Regions from separate parts of the Homo sapiens genome. Here regions 1 and 2 are each linked to region 3. The links come from fine-mapping of genetic effects on gene expression. A gene starts in region 3. Each other region holds a variant in brackets. All regions are shown on one strand. Distances are between the middles of the regions.

Evidence for each region. PIP is the estimated chance that this variant, and not a neighbour inherited with it, causes the effect.
Region 1: its variant is fine-mapped to the expression of BBOF1 in whole blood (INTERVAL, PIP above 0.99).
Region 2: its variant is fine-mapped to the expression of BBOF1 in subcutaneous fat (GTEx, PIP above 0.99).

The regions. Positions count from the first base shown.
Region 1 is chr14:74,138,719-74,149,539 of GRCh38, reverse strand. The region is part of intron 5 of LIN52 (lin-52 DREAM MuvB core complex component); the gene reads right to left. It overlaps LOC105370563 (a long non-coding RNA gene), which reads left to right and starts at 6,979. Exons shown (of 3, transcript XR_944024.3): 1 at 6,979-9,316. The variant T/C (reference allele first, on the strand shown) is at 4,972.
Region 2 is chr14:74,360,538-74,371,358 of GRCh38, reverse strand. No RefSeq gene overlaps it. Among named protein-coding and RNA genes, the nearest start is that of VRTN, 17 kb to the right of the region's middle. The variant G/C (reference allele first, on the strand shown) is at 6,045.
Region 3 is chr14:74,014,333-74,025,153 of GRCh38, reverse strand. It overlaps BBOF1 (basal body orientation factor 1), which reads right to left and starts at 5,805. Exons shown (of 12, transcript NM_025057.3): 1 at 5,620-5,805; 2 at 2,010-2,238. The coding sequence starts at 5,675. ENTPD5 (ectonucleoside triphosphate diphosphohydrolase 5 (inactive)) reads left to right here and starts at 5,866. Exons shown (of 16, transcript NM_001249.5): 1 at 5,866-5,904; 2 at 9,224-9,330. RefSeq lists enhancers at 3,054-3,348, 3,114-3,408 and silencers at 5,689-5,938, 5,969-6,038, 6,049-6,188, 6,229-6,298, 6,214-6,508.

The DNA of each region.
Region 1 (10,821 bases), 120 kb before region 3:
CCTATTTATAGTGACAAAGACCCTTGTCAATAATGTGAGAATACCACGCATAACCTCATTCATGTACCGATCAGGCCTGGTGCAGTCTTATCTCATCATGATGTCTCAACTTAAAGGCAAAAAGGAGACAGCTGCCAGAATATTTTAATACCTATGAATTTAGAGAATTGCTTTACGTCAGTCTAATCGTTTTGTAGAGTTATAAAAATATCCACTACAAAAGTGATGCTATAAGTATGTGTCCTTATGTAGCTGAGGGTTATAAAACACTGCACGGCCCTGGGTCAAAGCCTGCCAAGCCAAAACTGATATACATCAGTGTTGCTGTGAATTTTTAAAACCATGCTGCCTAATCTTTCCAAAGAACTCTTGCTCATTTAAATAAGAATTAGCTGCAATAGTAACCAACTACTTCAGTGCTTCAATAATGAGTTGTGCCCACTGAAAATTCAGAAATCATCACCGCCTGTCACAGGAAGTTAACATTTAACATGTAGAAGAAAAACCCCAAAATATTTTAAAAATTAAGGGTTTTTGTGACTCTGATAGGTAGTAAATCCATTCACCATGGAAAGCTGAAATCAAAATCATTGTCAAGGTGCAGGTCAAATTCATACTAGGCCACAGACACTTGATGGTGGCTTTCTTATCTCTTTGTTGCCACTTCTAGGCTTAGCAGGGTAAAGCTAGACAGGCTGTTGCATGGCCCAGTGGCCAAATTATGATGTAAAGTTACTTCGCCCCCTTAACATACTGATCTATATGTGGAGGAATAGACAATCAAGCAATTTTTTTTTTCTGTCTAACCTAACAAACTGGGATACTAACAAGGGAAATGAATATGAGAAAAAAATAATTTTTGCAGGTTAATCAAATAGCAACTGCTATATAAAATACTACATTTTACATGGAATCTTACAGCAAGAAGGAAACCAACTTGCCACTGTTGATATGTAGGATTTGTTGTTGTTGTTGTTCGTTTATATCCCACTTTTTTTATAAGACTTTTTCCAAACACCTTTAGCCTACTGTAATCTCTCATTTCTGTCAACTTCTATGCTCCTCAAGTGGATCAGTACATGCTCTCTTGTACTGTGATCAAACTTTTTATACATTTGCCTTGTCTCTCTAGTCAGATTGTAAGTGCCATGAGAGGAGCTTATGTATTTTTGACACCCAGGGTCTAGCACATTGGTTTACATAATAAATATTTACTTATTATGATAATATCAAAATCTTAAGAAATAGATGTGAACCTTTGGTAGGGTCCCAGATGTTAACATAAGTACTGAGGAGGATCAGGAGATTATTTCCAATCTATTTTGCGAAATAATAAAGGGAAGAGGAGAGTTAGAAGGGACTTATTCATGAATTGAGGAAAGTGGAATATAAAATCACTACACATTAAAAAAAGGCCTTTGATTAGGAGCAGGCCTATAATAGACTGTCAAATCTTCTGGGCTTCCTAGATAGGTTTTGTTTTCTTTTTTCTTCTTTTCTCATATAACTTTTAAAAACTTGAGATATAATTCACATAGCATAAAAGTCACCTTCCCCCACTTTAAAATTGTGAAATATACATAACACTTACCATCTCAACCATTTTTAAGTGTACAGTTTAGTGTGGCATTAAGTGTGTTTGCATCACTGTGCAACCAATCTCCAGAACTTTTTCAACTTGCAAAACTGAAACTCTGTAACCATTAAACAATACTCCCCCATTCCTCCCAACCCCCATTCTACTTTCTGTCTCTATGAATTTGACTACTCTGATTACCTCACATAAGTGGAATTACGTAGTGTTTTTTTGTGACTGGCTTATTTCACTTAGCATAATGTCCCACAAGGTTGTGTGTCAGATTTTCCTTCCTTTGTAAAGGCTGAATAATATTCCATTGCATGTATCTACTACATTTTGTTTATCCATTCACCTGTCAATGAACATTTGGATTGCTTCCACCTTTTAGCTATTGTGAATAATGCTACTATGAACACAGGTGCTGGGATTTCAGGCGTAAGTCACCACACCTGTCCTACCCAAGTACTTTCTTAATGGTGTCTTTGAAGCACAGAAGTGTTTAATTGTAATGGAGCTTGTTCTTTTGGTATCATATCTAAGAAACTACTGCCAAATTCAAGGTCATGATTTATGCCTATGTTCTATAGTTTCAGCTCTTATATTTAGGTCCATGATCCATTTTGAGTTAATTTTTTATATGATATGAGGTAGAGGGTCCAATTTTATTTTATTTTATTTTTTATGTGGATATTTTGTTTGTTTGAGATGAAGTTTCGCTCTTACTGCCCAGGTTGGAATGCAATGGTGCGATCTCGGGTCACTGCAACCTTCGCCTCAGGCATCCAAGCGATTCTCCTGCCTTAGCCTTCCAAGTAGCTGGGATTACAGGGGTGCGTTGTCATGCCCAGCTAATTTTGTAGTTTTAGTAGAGATGAGGTTTCATCATGTTGGTCAGGCTGGTCTCAAACTCCTGACCTCAAGTGATCCACCCACCTCGGCGTCCCAAATTGCTGGGTTTACAGGCATGAGCCACCATGCCTGGCCTCATGTGGATATTGTTTTCCAGCACCAGTTGTTGAAAGAGACTACTTTTCCCCCATTGAATGATCTTGGTGTCCTTGTCAAAAACCAATTAACTGTAAATATGGGGGTTTATTTCTGGATTCTCAATCATATTCCATTGATCTATATGGCTATCCTTATGCCACTACTGCACTGTCTTAATTACTGTAATTTTGTAGTAGGTTTTGAGACTGGGAAGTGTAAGTCCTTCAACTTTGTTCTTTTTCAAGATTGTTTTGCTATTCTGGGTCCCTTGCAATTATTTCCATGTGATTTTTAGGATTAACTTGTCAGTGTTGATTTTTCTGTACTTTATGCTTAAGAAGGAAACCAAGGTATTCTGAACAATCAATCTATAATTGTTACTAGTACCTGAATTCAAGTCTTTAATATCTGTGGGCTTTCTACTATGAAGGCATGAAAGTCAATGTAACACAGGAGTTTATCTGCAATTTTGCTTAGGAACAAATCTGAACAGCACACACTGGAAGAGCAATTCACTTAGCTGGCTAGTGAACCTAGTGGTCCACCCAGTACCTGCATCCCACCATGGCTACGAGATTCCCTAACAGTACTCTTACACATGATAAAAATAACATTTTATGGAAACTGAAGAGAACTAAAGGAATTTGGAAGGCATATTTTTCTTATGGTTGGCACAGATATATGACATGAATAGTTCCATAATGTATCCAGCCGTGTGTGGGAACGTTTTAACAAGTATCCCAGCTTTTATCAAACATGTTCATCAATAGAGAGAAAAATACATACTTCTCTGAAAAGGCAGTGAGGATGATTCAGGAAACATGGGATTCATGACCAAAATGTGATTTGGGAAAAAATAATGAAAGGGGAAAAGTAAGCACCTATCTATTATGTACCAAGTATGGTAAATGTTGGGAATTCAGTGGTGAAACCTGCAAATACCTAGATATCCTCACAGAGCTCTATGAGGGAGTTTAAGATCAGACTTGACTATTTCACGTCATAGAATCTGCAGTCTTTATGAAAAAACAAGTTTTCCATACCAATCTGAAAACCCCAAGACATGAAAGGAATGTCTTTCCAAATATTGGTAGTCCAGTGGAAAAAAACACCCTCAGACACAGGGCAAGGTGTTTTGGACTGGTTTCAAAAACATTTCATGTTTTGTCTCTTAGAAGGGCCGAGAAACAAACAAACAAAAAAACAAAACACTTTGTGCCAGAAATGTCTAAGCTTGAATTTCAAGTTCTCCCTACTGTGGAAAATGTGGAAGGCTATCTTTAATTACTATAGTTTACAATTCTAAATCCTTAAGTGATGTTCCTTCCTCTGAATACTTCTGACTTTTCGACCAGACTGTAAGAGACAAGCTCAAAGCATATGACTTTGCCACACTTTCATTGTCATCAAAAAATGCCATGGACAAAGATAGCAAACTTATTAACAGGCAGCTTTAGAAGAGGTACATCCTTGATTATGTAAGGATTCCATAGAGAATCTTTTACTACAAATCAGGTGATCTACAAAAGTGGATGCTTACTGGCATACTGTAAGGAAGAAGGCAGTGTATAACTTTAAGATTATTTTCACAGGCAATGAAGAATACACTGTTAATACTGGAGAGGCAAGAGGTTGGCAAAGGTTTGGAGGGCACACATAAAAGTAATATGGAAGAACTGAAAAAACAATAAGACTCACAGATGAGTTGGCAAAGAATGGCAAAGGGGATGACACTGAAGAATTAGAAGAACTTTTTTGAGTTTTCATACATTTAGTCAACGTTCTAATGGAGAAACAGCTAATTGACACCATAACTGCTTATGATCAATGGATAGAGCTTTAAATGTTAAAATCTGCACTGATTTCATACCATGGAATAAAAGCCAACTACAGCTACCACTCAGAGTTCTTTAGAAAGAAGCGATCACTTCACAAAGGTTCCCTCTCAGAATACTGTTTCACAATGATCTCCCTTATCTCTTCTATCACGTGCCTTGTTTTCAAGGTTATTGTTGAAGTGTCACTTTTTTTGTGGCTTAGTACACACTTCATGATCTCAACCACACAACCCGTGATCATCTGACATGTTGAGTTTGAAGATTCAGACAAGTTCCAGTTAACATTTCTATTTGTAATTAAACATATTGCAGTGTAACATTTATTTTAGTGGGAGAATACTTTACTTACTTCTAATTATAGAATAATTCATACCAAAGGCCCAAACGGTAACAATTTTTTTAACTGTACTTTACCACATTTTAGAGGAAAAATGATACACTATGAGTTATCACAAACTTGGAAATTTGCAGTTACCTCATGAATGTCAAGGTCCTGTCTTGAAAGCGACAAGCTGACTTACCACAGAAGTGCCAGGTGCTCATTTTATAGGTAGATTTCATAGACCT[T/C]ATATTTAATAAGAATTTGTTAGAGTTACATTTGCTAAGGGAAGACAATCTCTCAGATGTTGAGAATACCAGAAAAAGAATCTTTTTGCTGCATTCTTCCTAGGAGAGACTGAAATAATGTGATGGTTTAAAAATAATTTGAGGCTGGGCACAGTGGCTCACATCTGTAATCCCTGCCTTTCGGAAGGCCAAGGTGGGAGGATTGATTGAGCCCAGGAGTTCGAGACCAGCCTGGGCAACAAAGTGAGACCCCTCCCAACCCCCATGGCTCCAATTAAAAAAAAAAAAATTAGCTGGGTGTGGCTCCCACACCAGCTACTTGGGAGGCTGAGGCGGAAGGATCTCTTGACCCCAGGGTCGAAGCTGCAGTGAGCCGTGTTTGTACCACTGCACACCAGCCTGGGTGACAGAGCAAGACCCTGTCTTAAAAAAAAAAAAAAATTGAAGAATAAAACCTTGTCATGTGTGACAACATGGTTGAAACTGGAGGGCATCATGTTAAGTGAAATAAGCCAGACACAGAAAGACAAATACTGCCATGATCTCACTCATATGTGGAATCTTGTAAGAAAAAAAAAAATTGAGATCATAGAAGCAGAGTGGTTACCAGAAACTGGAAAGAGGGGAGAAGAGGGCAGGGGAGGAGGATGAGGAAAGTTTGGTCAACAGGCACAAAATTACAATTATACAGGAGTTCTGGTGTTCTGTTGCACAGCAGGGTGACTAGTTAACAGTAAGGTATCACATATTATGAAATAGCTGGAAGAGAGGCTTTTGAATGTTCTCACCACAAAGAAATAATAAATGCATGTGGTAATAGATATGCTAGCTACCCTGATTTGATCTTTATACAACATATGTGAATTGAAATGTCAAACTGTACCCCATAAACATGTACAATTATAATGTATCAATTAAAAATATGAAAAAATTATAATTTGTATAGTTAAAAAAAAACTTCACAGTAAATTCTTTGTTAAAAAGTGCATCTGCTTTTTTGGCGGACTATGTGGAGACAGAGGCTTCTCATTCTGTTGCCCAGGCTGGAGTGCAGTGGAGCAATCACAGCTCGCTGCAGGCTCTGCTTCTTGGGCTCAAATGCATCCTCCCACTTCAGCTTCCCAAGTAGCTGGGACCACAGGGGCACACTGCCACACTTGGCTAATTTTATTGGTATTTTTTGGCAGAGACAGGGTCTTTCTATGTCGTCCACGCTGGTCTCGAACTCTGGGGTCAAGTGATCCTCCCACCTTGGCCTCTCAAAGTGCTGAGATTACAGGCATAAGCCACTATGCCCAGGCTCATTCTGTTTCTGTCAGAGTAAGATAGGAGAGTATAGAACACAGAAGACACAAAATAGTGTACAAAATAAGAAAGATGTTCTGTTAAACTATAGGTGTTATGCACAAAGCTTGTAGGAAATTGATAATTTATACTATAAACTATTTTCCTATTTCAAATGCACATCCCGCTTGTCCTAGCTTCAGGGAACTGATTTGTGTATGCTCTGGACTCATTCCATAGTCTATCTATAGTAAGAAACTTTATCTGAAATTTGTCTATTTGCTTATTAGATTTAGTCTTCTGATGACTTATGGAAAGTCCTAACCCAATTTGATCAGAAAGCCAAAACGTCACCAAGAGGAAGCATAGGTCCAGGGCTGAGCAAAGGTTTTTTGTAAAGAACCAAACAGACTGAATGTGGCCCACAAGCCTAACATAACATAAGTATGAATGGGACGTAAGGATGTTATGTTAGGCTTGTGGGCCACATTCAGTCTGTTTCAGATTCTTCCGTTTTTTGTTTTTGTTTTACTTTTACAGCCCCCATAAAAACGTAAAAAACATTCTTAGCTCAGAGAATACAAAAACAGGTTGCAGGCCATAGTTTGCTGACCTTTGGTCTAGAGCAGTGCTGTCCAATGTGGTAGTCATTAGCGACACATGGCTACTGAGCATTTCCTAGAGTGACTGAGGAATTAGATTTTAAATTTTATTTTTAATTAATTTAACTTCAAACAAACACATGCAGTTAGTGGCTACTGCTTTGAATAGTTTAGGTCTACAAGATCTCCAATAGCCCAGAACAGCCCCAGAAATCTCTGTATACCTACATCCCATGAATCTAATAAAGGCTTGGACAAGAAGTAAATCAGTTATTGTTATTAATAATAGCCTCCAATTATTAAATTAAAGATTGGGCATCAATTCAAATGACTAACATCAAGGACAAGAAAAGCACTGTATAAAAAGTCTGAAACAAAACTAGTTTGCATTTTGCAATTTAGTAGTATGACATCTCTTCAATATTTGGTCAAACCTCAATTTTGAAGTGTTGAGAATGGGACTAAAGAGCTTCGAGTTAAAAAAAAGACTTGCAATGCTCCCATCTTTGGCAGATGTGGAATTTCTACCATTCAATTTGCATACAGATTCTCTTATTAAGACAGATGCAACTAAAATTAAGTTTCTGTTTGACTGAGAAGACAACTGATTTCTCCTATCACTGACCTGAAATGCTCCTGGAAAATTGCTTTGCTTCATTCATCACACTGCCACTCCCAGCAAGGCCCTTAAAGTTCATGAGGCACAAACTTGCTTTGTTAGCCAAGCTGTTACACAAGAAACCTAAGTCCTCATTTCCACGTGCTGACAAATCATTTCCCAAGTCCATTAATGCGTTCAAAACTTGATTCCTGGAACTTCTGAAGTAGAAAATTAGGGGAGAAAACACTCATTCAACTTTAGAGGAAGCCGCCAGTCAGTGCCTTGGACAACACTCATCAAAGGCTATTTGTTTTCCCCACCTATCTGGGACAGAATACTTCTCATTTAACTAAGCAACAAATTAAAAGCACACAGTGGGGTGCATATCACTACACATATGTCCGGCTAATGATGCATGACAAGACTCACACTACCTCCCCCCTAAAAGCTTTACCTCCAGAATTTCCTATTTTAAAACAATACTGGACTAAAATGTAACATTCCTGAAGTAAGGAAAATCACTTCATGTAAAAGCAGAGTTTGAACTATGGAACACAAGTCAGTGGATGCAACCTGCTTGTATGGTAAGGCTTCATTTATAAGGTCCAAGTCAAACTATCTACAAAGAGTCTTGAATTGGTACATCCATATAGTGAAATCCTATGAAGCATTTGGAAAACAGTGAAGCAGATCTATGTATACTGCTGTGGAAAGATATCCAAGACATGTTGTGGGGTCAAAGATAAGTCACAAAACAGTATGTATATTATGATTGCATCTGTGTATGGTAATGTATATAAACTTTACTATGTACAGAAAATGTCTGGAAGCATCCATGGAGAAACTGTTCGTGGCAGTTACCGCTCATAAATTCAGCAGATAAGGATTTTACTTTTCACTTTATATCCTTTCATGTTATTTTAAAATATTCTTAAAATCAAGAGCTTGTATTATTTGTATAAGTTTAACATATTCCTTTAAAAGCACAGAGAGATCTTTACAGTGGTTTCCTCCAGAAACCACTTATTTACCATTACAGTGTTTGATAATTGAAATGAAAAAGTTAAAACTGTTCCTTTTGTAGTTAACATCATTGTAATGTTCCTACGATAGCTTTTATTAATGAATTTCCATGGGGGACAGAAGAGAAAAACGCACACAACGGTATTACAAAACAGAAAAAAAATAAGGCACTTGCTAGGACAAGGCAATCCACAAGTGCCAACCAGCTCCAGGGCCATAAAGATCTCAGGAGAGCCATCACATTTCAATTACCATCACTAACATTACTTATTATTTGGCCTGCTCCAGTCCCTAAGGAAGGCAGCTTGTGATGATAATACCCAGCCTCTTCTTGTAAAACAATTCATTAGGCAAAGCAGAACAGCTGGGGCAGCCACGTGCGGGTTCTTAAAGCACCGCCCCACTGGGACCTCTGGCCCAGATTTCCCTTTTCGTGACGGACAGTCACCACCCCTCTGACAGCTGTAGAGTCCTCCGGGGACACTTCAGGTTTAATCAGTACTTCCTGCACTGGAGAGGGTCATTTGATTTCTAACATAAACTAATGGCAATCCTGCTTACAGCAGGTTACACCAGACATCAGATAAGAGGCTTTAGGGCATTTTTATCTTGTTCTAATGCTCGAGAGTTAATGAGGCAGCAAAAGATATTGTCATAGAGCCCCGGTGTAGCTATATTATCCAATAAACAGACTCTTTCCAAGACAGGTTTAATATGGATCGAGGAGGTAAAGAAGGCTAGCTTAATATTGATCCTACTGAGAGGATGAGAATCCAGTCACCATAACTAGGGCAAAATCATGCACATTCTGCAGTAGACAAAGTGCTACAAGAAGGTAAGGAGTCGCCTTTAAATACTAAGAGTAAAATGCTGCTTTTTACATTTAAAGCAGCAAAACTCTACTAGACTTATTTGGTGTTTTGGGCTAAGTTATTTTTAAAAAGCTTTTAAGTGAATCTATTTTTGTGTTTTTGCTGAAGTGTTCTTAGGAGTTAAATTTTAAATTAGTAATAAAGCTATTGTGGCTTTATATTAATTATATAATCTATACACTATATATTATAAAAGGGATAGCTTTTTTACTAGCTATGAAGCATGTTTTATTACATTAAACCATAGACTGCCTTTAACTTCTAAATATCACCACAGTCTACCTCATACAGGCTTCAGAAATAATTCAATCATCCATTCAACAACACCAATAGCCTATTATAATCAAGCCTATGTGAAACACAGTGAATATAAAAATAAACTCTTGGACTCACTATGCTAGCTGCATAAAAGAAAATATTACTCTAGCAATATTTTTCTTATATCTTAGAATCTGTTTTGGTAAACATACACAAATCAGAAATCCAAGTGTTTCTCTTCTCCATACTGGAAATATCTATAGCAGGTTCTGCTCAGCAATTTTAAAAACTGACCATTTCTTGAGTGGCTTGTTCCCTGAAGATGAAAAAGAGCTGATATTTTCTAATATTTATTTACTTGGAGAAATAGCCAAAGGGAGGGGGAAAAAAAAAGGTCTGCAAGATCCTTTAACAGGAGATGTTGGGCACGCAGTCACCCATTTATGGAGCACCAAACAAGCTTAATGTGGTAAAGAAAACAAGATCACTAAGTCCATACATGCACCTGTAAAATCACTAATTCTGAGCTTCCTTCTCAACACATCACCTCACATCCTTCTACTGACCCCACTGCTCTTGCAAAGGTCTCTTGTCCCCTGCTATGGCAGAGAATATTGGCTGCCTATTCCAAGATCCATGTTCCCTCTTCCTCTGTATTAACAGATAGCCAACTTTTTTGCTACCAAAATTATAGCTCAGAATAAACAATTACATTATTTTGCAGCCAGGCCAGGTGATTTAAATTCTGTGGGACTTCCAGGAAGGCTGCTTAAAAAGAAAAGTGTCAGCTGTGTGGGATCCCTTTTTTAAATTAAATTCCTACCCCACCTTCTTGCCTACAATTCAGGCATGATGGCTAGAGCTCTAGCGTGTATAAAGTATATTTAGGATGGAAGGATGGAAACTTTAGTCCTTGATGACACCTTTGGAACTGCCCTACCTGCTAGGTGCATCTACCTCCAGCTTTCCTTTTTGTTGAAAAAAAAAAAAAAATGCTACCTTGTGTAAGCCACAATTATTTTAGATTTCCTGTTATATATGGTTGCACTTTATCATAATTAACAGACTATATATTCACAACCTTTTCACCTATATAACCCTGATAGTAGTTTAAATTGTTAAGTTATTCATTTCAAAGATGCCTTTTTTTTTTTTTTTTGAGGCAGGGTCTCACTCTGTCTCCCAGGCTGGAGTGCAGAGGATAGGGGGT
Region 2 (10,821 bases), 350 kb before region 3:
TTGAAATAATTTTAAGCTGATAGAAAAGTTGCAAAAATAATAGAGAAGTCCCTTGTGTATCCTTTACACAAGTTCCCCTCATGTTAAAAACTCACATAAGTATCATAAAATGATCAGAACCAGGAAAACAGCAGTACAGTATCACTAACCAAACTACAGTGCTTAGTCACATTTCACCAGTTTTCCCCCAATGTCTTTTTCCTGTTTCAGGATCCAATCCAGGGTCCACATTGCATTTAGTTGCTGTCTCCCTCGTCTCCTCCAATCTATGTCAGTTCTTCAGGTTTGCCTCATGGCCTTGACACATTTTAAGAGTACTGGTCAGTTAGGATGTAGAGTGTCTTGCAATTTTGGCTTGTCTGACATTTTCTCAGGGTTAGATCAAGGTTGTAAATTTCTGGCAAGAATTCCACAGAAGTTATCTTAGTACTGGCACTGTTAACCTCAATCACTTCATTTCCTTGGTGTCTGCCAGGTTTTCCCATTGCAAAGTGACTGTTTTGACATTTTTACTAAGAAAAAAGGGATGGCGTTGAAGGATTTGAAGCAAGGGAAGTAACTTTAGATTTATGTTTTAAAAATCCCGCGCTGGTGGCAACATGAAGAACAGATTAGAAGGGGCTAGAATGTATGTGGGGAAGATTGGTTGGGCGTATACTGCAGTCTGATATGTGATGGTGGAAGTGGAGAGAAGTAGGCAGATTCTAGAGATGTTTAGAAATATCCTGGCCAGGTGTGGTGGCTCATGCCTGTAATCTCAGCACTTTGGGAGGCTGGGAGGCAGGAGGATTACTTGGGCCCAAGAGTTCAAGACCAGCCTGGGCAACATATTGAGACTCCCGTCTCTACAAAAAAAAAAAAAGTTTTTAATTAGCTGAGCATGGCTGGGCACAGTAGCTCACCCTTGTAATCCCAGCACTTTGGGAGGCCGAAGTGGGTGGATCACCTAAGGTCAAGAGTTCAAGATCAGCCTGGCCAACATGGTGAAACCCCATCTCTACTAAAAATACAAAAAATTAGCTGGGCGTGGTGGCGGGTGCTTGTAATCCCAGCTACTCAGGAGGCTGAGGCAGGAGAATCGCTTGAACCCAGGAGGCAGAGGTTGCAGTGAGCCGAGATCACAACATTGCATTCCAGCCTATGTAACAACAGCAAAACTGTGTCTCAAAAAAAAAAAATTAGCTGGGAGTAATGGTGAACACCTGTGGTCCCAGCTACTCAGGAGGCTGAGGTAGGAGGATCGCTTGAGCCCAGGAGGTCGAGGCTGCTCCAGCCAGGGAGACAGAGTGAGACTCTGTCTCATAAAAAGGAGTATCTAGAGATATTTAAAACCATAGGGCAGGTTAATGAGACCATGCAGAGATTCTGATTTAATTGGTGTGCAGTCGGGCCTGGGCAGAGCCAATCTTAAAAGCACCCATGTAATTGTAATGTTGAGCCGCAGGTGAGGTCTGTGTCCAGCCCACAGCTTGCTCTACACAGGCCTCAGATGAAAGCTACTCAGAAGAACAACACTCAAGCTGCTCAGGTCTGTTTGGACACATGGGGATGAAGATGGAGCTGGGGGGGCATCCCCTGCCATCTTCTCACAACCCAGAGAAAGCTGACTGGTGGGGAGGGTAGAGGAAGCTAATGAGAGCAGAGGACCCAGGGAGCACTTACTAGCACACCACTGACTCCCCAGGTAGGGTTGCCAGAGAAAATACAATCAAATCAGAATTTTTGGTAAATAATGAATAATTTTTAGTATGTCTCAAATATTGCATGGAGCATATACATACTAAAAAATTATTATTTGTTGGCCAGGCACAGTGGCTCACGCCTATAATCCCAGCATTCTGGGAGGCCGAGGTGGGTGGATCAATTGAGGTCAGGGGTTCGAGACCAGCCTGACAAAAATGGTGAAACCCCGTCTCTAATAAAAAAAATAAATAAAAAAAAAATTAGCCAGGCATAGTGGCACACTAATCCCAGCTACTCGGGAGGTTGAGGGAAGAGAGTCACTTGAATCTGGGAGGTGGAAGTTGCAGTGAGCCGAGATCACACCATTGCAATCCAGCCTGGGCAACAAGGGCAAAAAATATATCTATTATTTGTTGATCTGAAATTAAAATTTAATTGCGTAGTCCCTATTTTTATTTGCCGAATGTGGCAATTCTATCCCCAAGACAAGGATCCAATGGGTTCGGCTCATTCCCATCCAGTTCAGCAGCTTCCAGACCAAAGGGACTATTCTCTGCCTCTGCCTCCTCCTCTCGCTCCTGTCTCATCCCTAGTCTGGCCTGACCAAGAGCAGGTCAGTACAGGCACCGGCTCCCTCTCACCCTGCTGACCGGCCTTTACATGAGAACAGACACAGGGGTTTCTGTCACAGGACCTAGGCGGAAACACTCAGCCTTCCGCTCCAAACACACTCACTTCTTCATTCAGTGACTATTTTTTGAGCACCTACTATGTGCCAGGCGCTGTTCTAGCCAGAGGGATAAGCAGTAGACAAGTCAGACGAGTTCCTGTTCTCTGGGGGCCTCTGTTCCTGCATTTCAGGTTGAGGAAAAGGACAATAACCCAGAAAACGACTGTTGAAATGGTGATGACAACAGTGAAAGGACGTGGCAACAGTGACTGAGACCAACTTGAGATGGGGTCTGGGAGGGCCTCACTGAGCGGGTGACGTTACTTTGAGTTGAAGGACTGGCAAGACCCAGCTACATAAACACATAGGGAGGAGTCTTCTATCGGGTAGGGCTCCAGCACGTCTGGCCGATTGGTGGGACTTGCCAATTCCTGTGGTGTGAATACTCCATCCTAGCCAATTCCGAGCTAGGCACATGACATGGCAATTTTAAGAAAGCTAATATTTATGTATTTATTTATTTACTTTTTTGAGATAGGGTCTCACTCTCACTTTGTCACCCAGGCTGGAGTGCAGTGGCACAATCACAGCTCACTACAGCCTCGACCTCCCAGGCTCAGGTATTCCTTCCACCTCAGCCTCCTGAGTAGCTGGTACTACAGGTGCACACCACCACACCCGGCTAACTTTTTTCGTAAAGATGGGGTTTTACCATGTTGCTCAGGCTGGTCTCAAACTCCTGGACTCAAGCCATACTCCCACCTTGGCCTCCCAAAGTGTTGGAACTACAGATGTGAGCCACCGCGCTTGGCCAGAAGCTAACATTTTAAATGGTTTTGGACCTTAGAGTGTGAGGGCCAAATGGCTGTATCAAGATCCTACTCGCATGGGGTTTTTCCAGGCTATAGGCCTCAGTTTCTTCTCCCCATCCATCTTCTCTGCTCATTCACTGCAACTTTTGATTTTTAGACAGGGTCTCACTCTGTCGCCCAGGCTGTAGAGCAGTGGTACGATCTCCAGGGTTCAAGTGATCTTCCCACCTCAGCCCCCTACCTCCCGGTAAGTAGCTGGGACTATAGGAGTGCACCACCATACCCAGGTAAGCACTGAGACTTTTGAGAGGCCCTTTCGGAAATCCAGGAAAGGCAGTCTTGCTCCTTTTTGCCCCACAACAACATTGCCTCCCTGTTTCCTCTCTTAACATATTCCTGGCTGAAGAAAAACTGACTTTAAAAACCAAAGTCTTAGGCCGGGCGAGGCGGCTCACGCCTGTAATCCCAGAACTTTGGGAGGCCGAGGCGGGTGGATCACGAGGTCATGAGATCGAAACCATCCTGGCTAACACGGTGAAACCCCGTCTCTACTAAAAATACAAAAAAATTAGCCGGGCGTGGCTGCGTGTGCCTGTAGTCCCAGCTGCTGGGGAGGCTGAGGCAGCAGAATGGCGTGAATCCGGCAGGTGGAGCTTGCAGTGAGCCAAGATCGTGCCACTGCACTCCAGCCTGGATGACAGAGCAAGACTCTGTCTCAATAAATAAATAAATAAATAAATAAATAAATAAATAAATAAATAAACAAACAAACCAAAGTCTTGCCAGGCAAGGTGGCTCATGCCTGTAATCCCAGCACTTTGGGAGGCCGAGGTGGGCAGATCACCCGAGGTCGGGAGATCAAGACCATCCTGGCTAACACGGTGAAACCCCGTCTCTACTAAAAATACAAAAAATTAGCCAGGCGTGGTGGTGTGCGCCTGTAGTCCCAGCTACTCGGGAGGCTGAGGCAGGAGAATCGCTTGAACCCAGGAGGCGGAGGTTGCAGTGAGCCGAGATTGTGCCACTGTACTCCAGCCTGGACGACAGTGCAAGACTCTGTCTAAAAAACAAGCAAAACAAAGAAAACACAAGTCAAAGATACTTGGCTCCCTCCTATTTCCATGAAGATGAGCTCTGAGGATCAGTGGATCCTGCAGCCATCAGCCCCTGTCCTGGATACTGCCATGCAACTCAGTTATGCCTCCCTTGTTGTGTCCCAATTCTATTTTTTTCTTTTGTGTGTGTGTGTGTTTGTGTGTGTGTGTGTTTTGTTTGTTTGGTATTAGATTCGAGGTTTTTTTGTTTGTTTGGAGACAGAGTGTCGCTCTGTCACCAGGCTGGAGTGCAGTGGCACAATCTCAGCTCACTGCAGCCTCCTCCTACAAGGTTCAAGTGATTCTTCTGCCTCAGCCTCCTGAGCTGGGACTACAGGCATGCACCACCATGCCTGGCTAATTTTTGTGCTTTTAGTAGAGACGGGGTTTTACCATCTTAGCCAGGCTGGTCTCGAACTCCTGACCTTGTGATCTGCCTGCCTCGGCCTCCCAAAGTGCTGGGATTACAGGTTATAGGTACAAGCCACTTCACCCAGCTTTTTTTCTTTTCTTTTTTTTTTTTTTTTTTTGAGACAGGGTCTCACTCTCCCAGGCTGGAGTGCAGTGGTACAATCTCAGCTCACTGCAACCTCTGCCTCCTGGGTTCAAACAATTCTCCTGCCTCAGCCTCCCAAGTAGCTGGGTTTACAGGCATGCACCACCACGCCTGGCTCATTTTTTGTATTTTTAGTAGAGACTGGGTTTCACCATGTGTGCCAGGCTGGTCTCGAACTCCTGACCTCAAATGATCCACCCACTTCAGCCTCCCAAAGTGCTGGGATTACAGGCGTGAGCCACCGCACCTGGCCTTTTTTTTTCTCTTATTTTTAGACACAAGATCTCACTCTGTAACTCAGGCTAGAGTGCAGTGGCTCAGTCATAGCTCACTGGCAGCCTTGAACCCCTGGCTTCAAGCGATCTTCCTGCCTCAGCCTCCCAAAGCACTAAGATTACAAGCATGTGCCATTGTGCCCCAATTTTGTTTTTGGTTTTGTTGTTGTTGTTGTTGTTTTGAGATGGAGTCTCGCTCTGTTGCCCAGGCTGGAGTGCAGTGGTGCAATCTCAGCTCACTGCAACCTCTGCCTCCCAGGTTCAAGCAATTCTCCTGACTCAGCCTCCTGAGTAGCTGGGATTTCAGGCACCTGCCACCATGCCCGGCTAATTTTTGTATGTTTAGTAGAGACGGGGGTCTCACCATGTTGGCCAGGCTGGTCTCAAACTTCTGACCTCAGGTGATCCGGCTGCCTCAGCCTCCCAACGTGTTGGGATTACAGGCGTGAGCCACCATGCCCGGCCCACCCTCCCAATTCTAACTTAAGTGACAACAGATAACTCTGCCCAGTTAAGGAGCCTAGAAACTGATCTTGACTGTCAATACCTGCAGTCTGCCATACTGCAGAGGCAACTGTCTGAGCCAGGATGAGCTGCAGCGGGGGAGGGAGGCAGGTGAAGGAAAGGGAACCAAAAGCCACTCAGCCTGGATGCTCCCCAAATACCTCCCTGACCCCACAGCCTGCACTTCTCCTCCTCCTGGCCCTGGGGCTTGCAGTATGGAGTGGGGTGAGGCATTGGCGAGGACCCCCTGTGACCTTTCTGCCTTCTGCCAACCCAGTGGTCTCCGCAGGCAGAGGGTCATACATGAGCAGCTGCTTGCCCAGTCTCCTCCTGGCTGCCCTCCTATCTCTGTTCCCCCAGCTCTCTGCCTGGCAGGGAAGACCTCCTAGAGTTAAGTGGATTTCATGCTATTTTCAAAGTCATTTTTAATGGAAAAATTTTTTTTTTGAC[G/C]GAGTCTCATTCTGTTGCCCAGGCTGGAGTGCAGTGGCACGACCTCAGCTCACTGCAACCTCCGCCTCCTGGGTTCAAGTGATTCTCCTACCTCAGCCTCCAGAGTAGCTGGGATTACAGATGCCCGCTATCACACCTGGCTGATTTTTGTATTTTCAGTAGAGATGGGGTTTCGCCATATTGGCCAGGCTGGTCTCGAACTCCTGACCTAGTGATCCACTCGCCTTGGCTTCCCAAAGTGCTGGGATTACAGGCGAGAGCCACCGCTCCTGGCCACATGGAAAAATTTTTATACCATTAAACCTACTTTCTGCTGCTTCTTATCTAAAACCTTCCCTCCTCCTCTTCCATGAGATAAACTAGCAATGGGAACACTTACCAACCCACTAGTGACACCCTACAGGTAACCTGGGTGTCACTGGCTGGGGTTGGGGAGAAGCAATCACACTAGGAGAAGGTTCTGGTGAGATATCAGGCCAATGAAAGCGGACAGCCAGGGGCAGGAGCAGGCTTCCCTGCACACACTCTCAGGGCTTTGCTTCTCAGCCTTCCAGCCCCATCCTGACAACTGCCTGGTGGCACGAGCCCTGTCCCCTAGCTTCCCATCCTCCTGTGACAGCCACCAAACTGGAATGGGTCTTTTACAACAAGTGACTAGGGTCACCTGAGGGGCAACTGAGGCATTTCCCAGAGACTCCCAGGCAGCCGACACTCAAAGAGCTGGCTCATTCTCGGAAAATAGGCCACAAGGTACCAGACACAGATCAGCCAGCATAGGCTTCCTGTGAGCCTGCTGCACTTTTTGCCCATTCCATATGGAAGCCTCTATCACACTGTGTCACACCACGGCTGCTGCAAACTGAGGGCTTTGTGAGGACAAGAGTTGAATACAAACGGCTCTGTCTCCTCAGCTCACAGCTCAGCCTCTCAGAGGCTGCTAGATAGGAACCTATTATATCTGCCAGATCCCTTGTGAGCAGGGCCGACACAGCCCTTGGCCAAAACTTGTCCAGTAGCCTCAGGTGTGACCTGGCATGAAAGCTGTGCTCAGGGGAAAGGATGGGACAGGGATGGGCTGGACCAATGGAATTCTCTTCCCTGTGATTACCCAGCAGTGTGCAACCTTGTGAAACCCGCCATTTTTCTAGGGTCCTGCTGGGATAGAGGTATGGGAGAGAGAACGTTCTAGGACAACTCTTAGCTTTCTGGACAGTTTAACTAAGAACCTGATGCTGCAGAAACTGGGGTGAAAGATACTCAGAGAAGTGTGTCCCAGGGTAATGGGGGGGATGAGCCCAGATTGGCAGGCAGTGAGAATGAGGCAATGGTGGGACATCCAGGAGTGGCAGTTGGGATATGAGGTGGCTGCTCAGGACCCAGAAGCCACCAGCAATGCCCTGGGGCCTGAGTGCTGGACTCCAGAGAAACATTTGGGGAGCAGCTTATGTTGATCTCCACCAAAATCCTCTTCCTCCAGGGGATAAATGTGGAGATAATTTTTTTAAATTATTCAATGTTTCACTGGATTTTTTTGTGGGGGGAGGTGAAGCTTTTATATTTAAGATTGTTAAATCTTAACATCATCTGAGGTCAGGAGTTCAAGACCAGCCTGACCAACATGGTGAAAACCTGTCTCTACTAAAAACACAAAATTAGCCAGCCATGGTGGTGCACACCTGTAATCCCAGCTACTCAGGAGGCTGAGGCAGGAGAATTGCTTGAACCCAGGAGGCGGAGGTTGCAGTGAGCCAAGACTGTGCCACTGCACTCCAGCCTGGGCAACAAGAGCAAAACTCCGTCTCAAAAAAAAAAAAAAAAAAAAAATTGTTAGAAGAACTTGTTACATTACAAATACACAGAATGTTGGAAGAAGATGCAAAGTTAACCTCACATTTTTTTCTTCCTTTATTCACACATTGTTCATTTCACTGGACTTTCTACACTGCATCAGAGATAGAAAATGGTGAAGAAAAATACAAATAAGTTCAACAGATGTTGATTTCAAAAATCAGCATGAAGTATTCTTAGCAAATACGGTCACCACTTGGTATCCCTGCCTTTCTAAGCAGATTAGAAAGGAAACAGCTTTTCTACACAAGAATAACTTATCCATACTTATGAAACCTTTTCCAAATCTATAAATATTGATATACCATTTTTTATCTTAATTTCTTCCAACAGAAGCTAAAATTTCTGCCTGTGAGTTCAGGGCTCAGGGCTAGCCTCTGGCAAAAACACCTTTCAGTCCTGGGACAGGAGTGTCTTTAACCTAGAGGGTAACCTTGAACGACAGTATCCATGGGTATTGACTTCCTCCTAGAAAACAGGAATCAGACTCCCAGAGGTTCTGAAACTGGGCTTATCTAACACTATGTGCAGGATACTATCCTATAGGCATTACTGTAATCCCATCTTACAGATGGAAAAAGTGAGGCACAGCAAGGTTATGTAACTCATCCGTGTGCATATACTACCTCTCCAATGTCTCAGGTTGGAGTCAGCAGGTGTGAATGGGGCACTGGAATTCACGCTCCTAATAAGTTCCCACGGAGACTGCGATCCAGGTGGTTTTTAGACCCCGCTGTGAGATACTCCTCCAGGCATCAGAGGATTTGCTCTGGTTTGAGAGTTCAGGCAAAAGAGCAAATAGGAGAATCCAGAACCCCGATAAGGGTAGTTCTCAGGAAGTTGCTACCACCCTGGATGGCCAAAGCAGTAAGGCGGATACACCGGGGGTTGGGAAATCAGAGCCGCGTGCGGATTGGGAACCCAGAGAGAGACTTTGTCTGTTGCTGCACCCGATTGCCATCTGCTGGCTATATGTGGCTATTGCAGGCCAGATGGTAACATTCCCAGTCCAACCCCTCCATCAAATGTCAAATGGTTACATTGGTGGTGGGGCTTCAGTGAAGACTCCAGGGCTCAGTACAGAGCCTCAACAATGCCACTTGTGGGAGGGAGAAAAGAATGCAGGGGGAAAGGTCAGTCTGAATGAGGGTTGGTGGGGAGAAATAAGCCGGAGAGGAAAGTAGGGGCCAGAATCAGGTGGGCCTCAAAACAGTTAGGATTTTGTACTGAGGGCCAACGGGAAATCCAGCAGTGAGTCAGACTTTCAGTAGGATCATTCTGGCCTGTCAGGAAGAACTAGGATAGTTTGAGTGGAGGCAGAGTCAGTTTGAAAACTGTTCCAGTATCAAAGATGAGGAACAGATGCTGGTATAGATTAGGGGGTAGCTGTGGGGATGCAGAAAAATGGTCCACAAGAAATATGGAGGAAGGGGGATTATGTCTGATAAAACCAAATCCCAAAGGAAAACAGCAGGAAAGGGATAGAGACCCCATTTCACTCATTCCTTCTTTCAACACATTTTAGCACCTATGATGCCAGGAACGAATCTACCTGCTGGGAACACAGTGGTGTGAGCAAGTCAGGGAAAAGCCCAGATTTTCATGGAGCTTACATTCTGCTGGGGAGGTAGGCAATAATCAAATAAACAAATAAACAAGAGAAACATCAGATGGGAGTAAACACCATGAGAATGAAAACTGTGGTGTGATGGTGACCCTCAGAGATCTGAATGGTAAGAAGTCTGCCATGTAAATATGACAGGGAAAAGCATTCTAGACCATAGCAGCAAATGCAAGGGCCTTTAGAGCAGAAACAAGTGTTCAAGACCAGAGGCAGCTGGTATGGTTGTAGCGTGGTGGGTTAGGGCCAGCATGGAGCAAGAGGCAGAGTCAGGGACAGATTGTCTGGGCTTTGTAAAGCAGCACAAGGAATTCTAGGAGTAAAGGGAAGCCACGGACACATTTTAGGCAGGAAAGTGAAAATCCGATTTCATAAACTCTCTCACTGCTCTATGGAGAATGGGTTGTATAGGGGCCAGGCATGGTGGCTCACGTCTATAATCCCAGCACTTTGAGAGGCCGAGGCAGGCAGATCTCTTGAAGTCAGGAGTTCGAGACCAGTCTGGCCAACATAGTGAAACCCCGTCTCTACTAAAAAGGCTAAAGTTAGCCAGGCATGGTGGCACGTGCCTATAATACCACCTACATGGGTGGCTGAGGCATGAGAATTGCTTGAACTCAGGAGGTGGAGGATGCAGTGAGCTGAGATTGTGCCACTGCATTCCACCCTAGGTGAGAGAGAGAGACTCTGACTCAAAAAATAAATAAATAAAAATAATGGGTTGCAGCACTTTGGGACGCCGAGGTGGGTGAATCACGAGATCAGGAGTTCAAGACCAGCCTGGCCAAGGTGGTGAAACCCCATCTCTACCAAAAATACAAAAATTAGCCAGGCATCATGGCAGGTGCCTGTAATCCCAGCTACTTGGGAGGCTGAGGCAAAGAATTGCTTGAACCTGGGAGGTGGAGGTTGCAGTGAGCCAAGATCACATCACTGCACCCCAGCCTGGGCAACAGAGCGAGACTCTGTCTCAAAAAATCATAAAAATAATGGGTTGTATAGGGGTATAGGGGCAAGAGTGGAAGCAGGGAAGCAGGGAGATGGGGTAGGAAGCTGTGATGTGGGCCAGGAGAGACAATGGCAGTAGAGTGGAGAGAGGGTTCTGGGTATCATTTGGAGTCAGCGTCAATAGGACTTGCTGATGGATTGGATGTGGGGTGAATAAAAAGCAGAGGCAAGAATGACTCCCCAGGAGCACAAGGATGCCAGCCACTGCAGGAAACCCAGACAGAAGAAGGGCCTACGGGAACTTCTTCCCTAATGATTCCTCCCTCACCAAACAGGCAAAGGCCTGGGCTTAAAGCTCCC
Region 3 (10,821 bases):
TAAAAAAACTTACTTTAGAACAATACTTTATAGAGGGCAATTTAATAATACCTACTATTAAAAGAGTAATTTTAAAAATAAAAATTGGCCAGGTTTTGTGGCTCATGCATGTAATCCCAACACTTTGGGAGGGTGAGGTGGGCGGATCACTCAAGGCCAGGAGTTCCAGATCAGCCTGGCCAACAACATGCCAAAACCCCGTCCCTACTAAAAATACAAAAAATAAAATAAAATAAAGATAGAAATTTCTGGACCAGGTGCTATTGCTCATGCCTGTAATGTCAGCACTTTGGGAGGCTAAGTTGGGAGGATTTCTTGAGCCCAGGAGTTCGAGGCTAGCCTGGGCGACATGGCGAAATCCCATCTCCACAAAAACTACAAAAAAATCAGCCAGGCATGGTGGCTCATGCTTGCAATCCCAGCACTTTGGGAGGCCAACGCGGGTGGATCACTTGAGCTCAGGAGTTCAAGACCAGCCTGGGCAACATGGCGAAACCCTGTCTCTACCAAAAATACAAAAAATTAGCCAGGCATGGAGGTGCGTGCCTGTAGTCCCAGCTACTTGGAAGACTGAGGCAGGAGGATCATCTGAGCCCGGATGTCGATCCTGTGGTGAGCCGTGATCATACCACTGCACTCTAGACCAGGCAATAGAGAGAGACCCTGTCTCAAAAATAATAATAAAGTAATAATAATATGAGACAGAGTTTTGCTCTGATGTCCAGGTTGGACTGCCGTGACATGACCATGGCTCACTGCAGCTTCAACTTCCTGGGCTTAAGTGATCCTCCCGCCTTAGCCTCCCGAGTAGCTGGGACTACAGGTGCACACTGCCACGCCTGGCTATTTTTTACTTTGTGTAGAGACTGGGTCTTGCTTTGTTCCCCAGGCTGGTCCTGAACTCCTAAGCTAAGTTATCCTCCAGCCTCTTCCTCCCAAAGTGTTGGGATTATAGGCATGAGCTACCACACCCAGCCTGAATTTCCACTTTTAACACCCACTAGGGGTGTGACTTTGGGCAAGTTACCTGTCCTTTCTGAAAGTCAATTTCTTCATCTGTAATATGGAAATAACAATATTATAGCTACATGGGGTCATAAAAATAATTAAATAGGAGGTTAGTAAAAGAATCAAGAGAGGTAAAGCACCCAGTATAGTACATTGTAGTGGCTCCAAAATGTTAGTTCCCTTCCCTTTTTCTTTTCTTTTCTTTTTTTTTTTTTTTTTTGAGATGGAGTCTCTCGCTCTGTCGCCCAGGCTGCCAGGCTGGAGTGTAATGGTATGATCTCAGCTCGCTGCAACCTCTGCCTCCCGGGTTCAAGCAATTCTCCTGCCTCAGCCTCCCGAGTAGCTGGGACTATAGGCACATGCAGCCATGCCCGGTTAATTTTTTGTATTTTAGTAGAGACGGGGTTTCACTGTGTTGCCCAGGCTGGTCACGAACTCCTGGGCTCAGGCAATCTGCCCACCTCAGCCTCCCAAAGTGGTGGGATTACAGGCGTGAGCCACCACACCCGGCCTCCTTTTTTCTTCCAAATATAAAATGATAGCTTTACTCTCAACACTTTAATAAGGTACAATAAGATACAAGATTCAACTGGCCAAAAATAAAAATAAAGATTCAACTTGCTGGGTTCAGAAAGTTATCATGGATTATCAGTGAACTGCTTTACAAATTTTTAAAACTAAAAATCAGCATCAAAAAATATATAGATCACATACCATGCTCTTATCCTTAAAATAAAGTAGATCATAAAGTTCCCTTATGATCATCAATCTCTGTTTGCTTCAGACAAGAAAACATGCAACAAGGATTGAAAATAAAAGAGAGCCGATAACAGTAAAACCATTCTGAAAAAGTGTCTTGCTTCAAACAGAGTTAAGGTCAATTGAAATGTCTTAAGTATATGTTAAGATTTCAAGGAATTAAAAATCTTTGAAATACATAACCACATCAGCATCACCATAGAGGTAGTTAATGAGGCCAAGGAGGCTTTCTACCTACCTACCATATTATCTTTCTCCTGATCCTGCTTCTTCAGGTAACTTAATACTGACATTATGTCTTTCTCCATTTTACATTGCTTTTTCTTTAAGTCCTCATTACTTTTTGCCAGTATCCGTGAAGTATCACGATACTTAATCCTAGAGAGTTCTGTGACTTCCAACCTGGCCTCCCAAAGGGAGGCATTGGCCTTGGCTCTGTCCACCACAGATTCATCTGTTTTTATTAACTTCCTGCATGGGAAGAGGATATTGACAGTATATGACTATTTATACAACTCTAATATGCAGATAGTATATAACTCTATTATATTACTATTAAATTTTTCTCTTTTTTTATTTGTTTTGCTTGGCATTGCCTGGCACACATGATCAAATATTGTTGGAAGAATAAGTTAATAAGAAATACATATTCACATTTGAAAAAAGAAAAAAAAAGAAATACATATTCACTTGTATTCACATAAGATAATTAAGTAAGTGCCTCTTCCTGGAGGAGGGGAGTCCTGGAGCATAACTCGAAAAGACTGGTAAAACAAAGGGAAAAGACAGGATAAGCCAAACTCATTTCAGAAAGCTTTCATATCTTTTTTTTTTCTTTTTGAAACTGGGCCTGGCTGTGTCACCGGGCTGGAGTGCAGTAGCACGATCTCGGCTCCCCAGAACCTCTGCCTCTTGGGCTCAAGCCATCCACCCACCTCAGCCTCCCAAGTGGCTGGGACTACAGGTTCATGCAACTATGCCCAGCTAATTTTTGTACTTTTTGTAGAAATGAGTTTTTGCCATGTTGCCCAGGCTGGTCTTGAACTCCTGGGCTCAAGTGATCCTCCTACCTCAGCCTCCGAAAGTGCTGAGATTACAGGTGTGAGCCACTGCGCTTGGGCAGTTTTTATACCTTTTCATTTACTTATTTGATTCTCCCATATTTATTTTTTTTTTAATAGAGATGGGGTCCCACTATGTTGCCTATGCTGGTCTCCAACTTCTGGGCTCAAGTATCCTCCCACCTTGGCCTCTCAACGTGCTGAGATTACAGGTGTGAACCAGTGCCCTAGCCTGATTCTCCTGTAGTTAAACTATCTTTTCTATTCCTACTCACTCAGTGCTGGACTTTGGTTCTCTCCACTGCAAACCCATTATCTCTGTTCAGTTTCTGCATGATGATACCCATTGGTAGTATAACTGTGATCTCCCACCCACTTTACCCTCCACTTTTGAGTGTGTTTTTTTTTTTTCTGGGGGAGGGACGGAGTCTCACTCTTTCACCCAGGCTGAAGAGCAGTGGCGTGATCTCGGCTCACTGCAAGCTCCGCCTCCCAGGTTCATGCCATTCTCCTGCCTCAGCCTCCCGAGTAGCTGGGACTACAGGAGCCCGCCACCAGGCCCGGCTAATTTTTTGTATTTTCAGTAGAGACGGGGTTTCACCGTGTTAGCCAGGATGGTGTTTTTGTTTTGTTTTGTTTTGGGCTAGGTCTTGGACAAAAAGTCAAGTCACTAGGGCAAATACGTTAAATAGTTTATCAGCTGGTGCCACAGTTCACCGGACTTTTTTTTTTTTTTTGAAACAAGATCTTGCTCTGTCATCCAGGCTGTAGTGCAGTAGCACCATCACAGCTCACTGCAGCCTCAACCTCCCAGGCCCAAACGATCCTCCACCTCAGCCTCCTAAGTAACTGTGACTACAGGCATGAGTTAGCATGCCCAACTAATTTTTAATAAAAATTTTTGTAGAGACAGGGTCTTCCTATGTTGTTCAGGCTGGTCTTGAACTCCTGGGCTCAAGTGATCTTCCCCTGCTCAGCCTCCCAAAGTGCTGGGCATGAGCCACGATGCCCCACCCACCGGGCTTTAAGGATGCCTGAGAAACCATAATCATTTATATAGAGGTGGAGAGGAAAAAGGATGGATTCAAAGATTAAAGTGGTAAAGGAAGAGATTTTTCTAAATATTTATTGTATAAGCATTAACAAAACACTCCCCCTTATATATGGTAGGTACCATGATATATAAATATGTACATATTTAAGAATATTTCACCTGTATTTGAATTCTAAATATTTTCACACATATGTACATGTGGACCTTTCTATACTGCCACCCTCCACATCCACTTTCCTACCTCTGGTTCTCAGTCCTCTTCCACAGAGGTAATGGGTTTGCAGTGGAGAGAACCAAAGTCCCACTTTCACCTTTTGTTCTCTTCAAATTAAGGCCAGCTCCATTCCCAACCCCTCAGCCTGTTATAGCTGTTGATGTCCCTTTCTGGCATGATTTAGGCACTAGTGATACACTGTCTCACTACGACCATCCAGGTATCAGGTCTGAGTGGCTCGAAGTACTTGATGCGACAGGGCATGGTGGCTCACGGCTGTCATCCCAGCACTTTGGGAGGCCGAGGCGGGTGGATCACCTGAAGTCAGGAGTTCGAGACCAGCCTGGCCAACATGGTGAAACCCTGTCTCCACTAAAAATAAAAAAATTAGCTGGGCGTGGTGACGGGTGCCTGTAATCACAGCTACTCGGGAGGCTGAGGCAGGAGAATTGGTTGAACCCAGAAGGCAGAGGTTGCAGTGAGCTGAGATCGTGCCATTGCACTCCGGCTTGGGCAACAAGAGCAAAACTTGGTGTCAAGAAAAAAAAAAAAGTACTTGATGCAAGAAATTAGACACTCTAATAGGACCACTGATACTCACTGTAGAAACAAAGCCAGGTTTCTCAAACAATGGGTCATGGAAAATCCAAGGAATAAGGTCTCTTACCCTTAGTGTTCCTCATTGTTCAAATGTGTACTGTAGAAGCATGGTCAAAATCTGAAAACATATGTTAGTGAGTTCTAGGAATGTGATAAGCCCTTGGCACTTTAAGGGCTAGACTAACTGTGCAGTTATGTAAAAACAAAAAAAAAATACCATAAAAGAATACTTACATTAACAAATGGGAAGAAAAAAGCCACATATAAGTATGTACATTGGGCTATCGTTTTATTAAAAAAGAATACTCCAAAATATAGTAGTGTTTATTTTTGGATAATGAGACTACAGGTGATTTTTGTTTTTTCTTTTGGTACTTCCCATGTTTCCCAAACTTTCTGTATTGAGCATGAATTACTCTCTTAAGTTACTTTACAAACATCTCAAGTTTGGTGCCAACTCTGTGTTCCCATATATGGTGTTGTTGCTGGACACCACGTATGACTCCAACGTGTCCAGAAACCACCGGGGTCCCCCAATAGGGCTAGTAGCAATCTAGCAGCAACTCCAGGCCTGTAAGGGGTTAGTGCTAGAACATTACCCACCTCAGTGGCTCTGATCAGTTTGGGAAAACCTCAATAATTATCCAACTTGGTAAAATACTTTAGGTGTCCCCTTTGAACCAAAAGAGATCTCTGAAAAGGCCCAAGGAACTACTTTATACATCCTCTACACGTTTAAGATAATCTGAACACATAGTAGAGATCTGCCAGACTATGGACATGGGAGCTGTAATCCTCACAAGCCGGGAGAGCCGGGGAGAGGGTCCGAGTGGGCCGGCGCGGGGGGCGCCAGGTTGCCAGCCCCAGACCCGAAATCCCAGGCAGGCCCAGGGAGAGGGGACTCTCGGGTGGCTTCTCCTTACTTCGTGTCTTTGCCTTTGCTCTTGCCTTTCTTTTTGTCCTTTCCCTTCGACGGCATCTTGGCTTCCCCAGGGGCTCCGCTGTCGTAGTTGCCCAGCCGCGGCCGCCCTGGCCAGCTCTGTCTCCAAGGGAACCGGGACGCCGAGCTGGCAATGCCCCACCCGCGCCGCTGACGGCGCGCGGAGAGCGCACGCGCCCGTGACGTAGCCCAGGCGCCGCGGCGCGCGGGGTGGGGCGGAGGTCGCGCCGAGGGCGGCGGGCTGCCGCGCAAGGGTGGCGCGCGCGCGGTGAGTGTGCGAGTGTCGGCGGCGCCGGATCCTCTACGTGGGGCCCGGGCTCTGCGGGCGGGAGGCGGGAGCTGGCAGCCCCAGGCGGTAGCGCTTCGTCCTGCGGCCTGGGTGTGTCAGGAGTCGCTGCGGTCGGGGCGCCCTTGCCTCAGGAGACTTAGATCCCCGCTGATCCGCCCGTCCCGCCGCAGTGGTCTGAGCCGCAGCCCTTTCCCGTGCCGCCCGCGGGTCCCGTTCCTCCCGTGTCTCCATGCCGCAGCCAGCGTGGCCGCGGCTACCTTGCCCTCGCCCCCGCTCCGCTTCTGCCGCTCCCGGCACTGCCTTACTCCTTTGGGTTGCATCTCTTTCCTGGCTTTTCACCCTTGCTGATTCTGTAAGGGATAGTGCAGCCAGCGGACGTCCCAGGCCAAATGTTTTTTGATAGGCAGTCGAGGACTTTCCCGAGGGCGGTGGTTGAGGGCGAGGCTGCCAGCCTCCGAAGAGCAGCGGCACGCCAGGGAGCCGGGCGGGGAGGGGAGTGCTGCCACCGAGGTCGGGAGCAGGGTCCTCGGCCTCACTAGGTCCTGTGTGGCCGATACTTCCTGCCCACGACCGCCCCCCGGATTTCCATTTGCTAATACCGGTCCGCAGCCTTCTTTCCTGAAAGTTGCATAAAGTTGGAAGCTCTTCAACTTGCCTCCCCGACTCCTGAAATCCCGAATACACCTCTGAAAAGGAGTGTACTCACAAGTATTCTCATTTTTCAATGAGAGTCAGTCAGTGAGTCATTAAGGAAGGTACGGTATTCTGAGTGCCAAGCCAATAGTTAGGAGACTTGTGGTTGAAGCTCTGCTCTGTTATACTCCATTTCAAATTAAAAAGTTTATTTTAAATGTGGTTGTAGATCCTTCGTCACCATTTCTCTAGGGAGGACTTAATCCGTACACTCCTTCCCGATGTCTTTGACCTCTAATTACTCCCCTCCGCCTTGTTTCCCACTTGCATAGTTTCTGTTTCTGAATTTCTGTTTCTTCTGAGGGAACATGCCGATTTGGTAATGATAAGCCTTGTAAACTTTTTTTTTTTTTTTTCTGAGAGAGAGTCTTCTGTCACCCAGGCTGGAGTGCAGTGGGGCATCTCGGCTCCCTGCAACCTCCACCTCCTTGGTTCAAGCGATTCTCCTGCCTCAGCCTCCCCAGTAAGTGGGACTACAGGTGCATGCCACCACACCCGGCTAATTTTTGTATTTTTGGTAGAGATGGAGTTTCACCATGCTGGCCAGGCTGGTCTCGAACTCCTGGCCTCAGGTGATCCACCTGCCTCGGCCTCCCAAAGTGTTGAGATTACAGGCGTGGGCCACCGCCCCGGCTGTAAACCTTTTTTTTGAGACAAGAGTTTTGCTCTTGTTGCCTAGGCTGGAGTGCAATGGCGCAATCTCGGCTCACCACAACCTCTGCCTCCCGGGTTCAAGCAATTCTCCTGCCTCAGCCTCCCCAGTAACAGACTATAGGTGCGTGCCACCATGCCAGGCTAATTTTTGTATTTTTGGTAGAGACAGAGTTTCACCATGCTAGCCAGGCTGGTCTTGAACTCCTGGCCTCAGGTGATCCACCCGCCTTGGTCTCCCAAAGTGTTGAGATTTACAGGCATGAGCCACCGCCCCCGGCTGTAAAATTTTTTTTTTTTTTTTTTGAGACAGAGTTTTGCTCTTGTTGCCCAGGCTGGAGTGCAATGGCACGATCTCGGCTCACCGCAACCTCCACCTCCCAGTTCAAGCGATTCTCCTGCCTCAGCCTCCCGAGTAGCTGGGATTACAGGCACACACCACCATCCCTGGCTAATTTTGTATTTTTAGTAGAGACAGGGTTTCTCCATGTTGGTCAGGCTGGCGTAAACCTTATTATACATACCATCTGCCAGCATGATCATGGCTTTTTCTTTTCTTTTTTTTTGAGATGGAGTTTCGCTCTTGTTTCCCAGGCTGGAGTGCAATAGCACGATCTCGGCCCACCGCAGCCTCCACCTCCCAGGTTCAAGCAATTCTCCTGCCTCAGCCTCCCGAGTAGCTGGGAATCCAGGCATGCGCCACCATGCCCGGCTACTTTTGTAATTTTAGTAGACACGGGGTTTCTCCATTTTGGTCAGGCTAGTCTCGAACTTCCAACCTCAGGTGATCCGCCCGCCTCGGCCTACCAAAGTACTGGGATTACAGGCGTGAGCCACCACGCCTGGCCGATCATAGCTTTTTCTGAGTGTATTTCTGGTATACTTTCACACTCCCGTGAGTCCATAGGCGGAATCGCCATATATTGAAGAGTTTATCTCTGATGTAAAATCTATAAAGTTACCATTAATTTTGTATGTGTAAGGTTCTGAAAAAGCACACTGTTGATAAGCTGCAGAAAAGAGAGTAGGGCATCTTCTGTCACAGGCTGTATATTTGGAATTTATTCTAGAAATTGGTAACTTTATAATATGAAAGTCAGTCCAAGACTCCTCATTTGAACATAGGCTTACAGATTAATGTATGAACATAAAAATTTGACTATAACAAGATTATTAATGTATGCGTAGTACCTTAGTTATAGTACTTTATAGTTTCTTTTATTGGTTTTTGGGTTTTTTGATGGTTTTTTTGAGATAGGGTCTTACTCTTAACCATGCTGGAGTACAGTGGCAGGATCATGGCTCATTACAGCTTCGACCTCCTGGACTTAAGTGATCCTCCCACCTCAGCCTCTGGCATAGCTGGGACTGTAGGCATGCACCACCATGCCTGGCTAATTTTGTATTTTTTGTAGAGACAGGGTTTTGCCATGTTGCCTAGGCTGGTCTTGAACTCCTGAGCTCAGGTGATCCTCCTGCCTTGGCCTCCCAAAGTGCTGGGATTACAGGCATGAGTCGCCACACTTGGCCTAGTTTATTTTATTGTATTATATATATTTTTTATTGACTAAGTTTGATTTTGTAGATAAAGCTGTTGTGACATGAATATGGCTCAGGGAAATGCCAAGATTTCATACTCTGGTAGAGGTGGATATAGAGTCTACATTCTTCTGAATCCCCTCATTTTCTACCAAAGAACTGGATGTTGTTACTGTCATCTGCTGGTGAGCAACAACTGATAGTACAGATAGTAGAGTAGGAAGTTGCTATTTAGTAGTTTATCTGGTAGCATTTCCTTCCACAGTTACTGGTAGGTGCCTTTACTATGAAGTTCCAGGAATTATTACTAAATAAATTTTCCTTGTTTCATTGTTTAGAACACTAATGCTTTTAAACTTGGAATAAGCCACTTCATGTTTTGTTGACTTGGTTTTGTAATTCTTTTTCTGTCCAGTTTTCCTTGTTCCTGGTCAACAAAGAAATGTGGAGTGTCTTGGCTGAATCCTCATACAGACAAGATCATTATGGTGCTGTTAGGTAGGACTTGTATCCAGATGTAAGGTAATATCTCCACTAGCTTAAATTTATAAATGTATTTCAAATGTTCCTGAATGGTGGTTTTCTTTTTTTCCTGAATTTAATTCTCTGTTTTTTGCCAAGTGATGTTAATTTTGTCCAACAAGCCATATATAAAATTTAGAACTATTATGTATCAAAATAGATAGAATTTCTGGCTGGTCATGGTGGTTCATGCCTGTAATCCTAACACTTTGGGAGGCCAAGGCAGACGGATTGCTTAAGCCCAGGAGTTCAAGACCAGTCTGGACAACATGGCAAAACCCTGTCTTTACAAAAAATACAAAAATTAGCTGGGTGTGGTGGCCATGTACCTGTAGTTCCAGCTACTCAGGAGGCTGAGTTCAGAGGATCACCTGAGCCCAGGGAGATCATGGCTGCAGTGAGCCGTGCCACTGTATTCCAGCCTGAGCAATGGTGTGACTGTTTCTCAAAAAAAAAAGGGGGGGCGGGGGGTGGGTAGTACTTCTGCTTTTTTCTTCTAGTAGGTCCAAAACTGGGTTTACTTTATAAATTCATCTATAACTTTATTCGGGTTTACCTTAGAGGCCATGTTTCCCTTCATAAATCATTCTTGAGATCACCTTATAGCAGATGGTACTTTATAGGTGGATCAGTCTAAGTGAACAACTTTAGATTTTGTTTCTACATAGCCTTTAGAATCCTGAATAAATATATTATTATCCAAACTGTTTCTTATGGGAGTTACTTTCTTTTTTTTTTTTTTTGAGAGGTAGTCTTGCTCTGTCGCCCAGGCTGGAGTGCAGTGGCACAATCTTGTCTCACTTCAACTCTGCCTCCCAGGTTCAAGCAATTCTCCTGCCTCAGCCTCCCGAGTAGCTGGGATTACAGATGCCTGCCACCATGCCCGGCTAATTTTTGTATTTTAGTAGAGACAGGGTTTCACCCCCATGTTGGCCAGGCCGGTCTTGAACTCCTCACTTCAAGTGATCTGCCTGCCTCGGCTTCCCAAAGTGCTGAGATTACAGGCTTGAGCCACCACACCTGGCCAGGAGTTACTTTCATCCTGCTTTTTTATTGCATGTGCTGCAAATATAGAATTCTACTAAATTGACATTTTCTCGTGATATTAAGACTAGTTCACATCTCTGCAGGGGCATTTTAAGAAATCCTGGCGGTCAAGGATTTAATCTTATCACTTTTAGATAAATTTTTAAAAATTTAAAACATTCAATGTTTTACTTATATACAAGATATGTTACCACAGATAATTATTTGTTTATTTATTTGTTAATGAATGACAGGGTCTCACTATGTCACCCAGGCTGGAGTGCAGTGGTGCAATCATGACTCACTGCAGCCTTAACCTTCTGGGGTCAAGCAATTCTCCCATGTCAGTCTCCTGAGTAGCTAGGAGCACAGGCTTGTGCCACCATGCCCAGCTAACTTTTTTTTGTGGGGGGGGGGAGTAAAGACTGGATCTCACTCTGTTGCTACTGGGCTCAAATGGTTCTC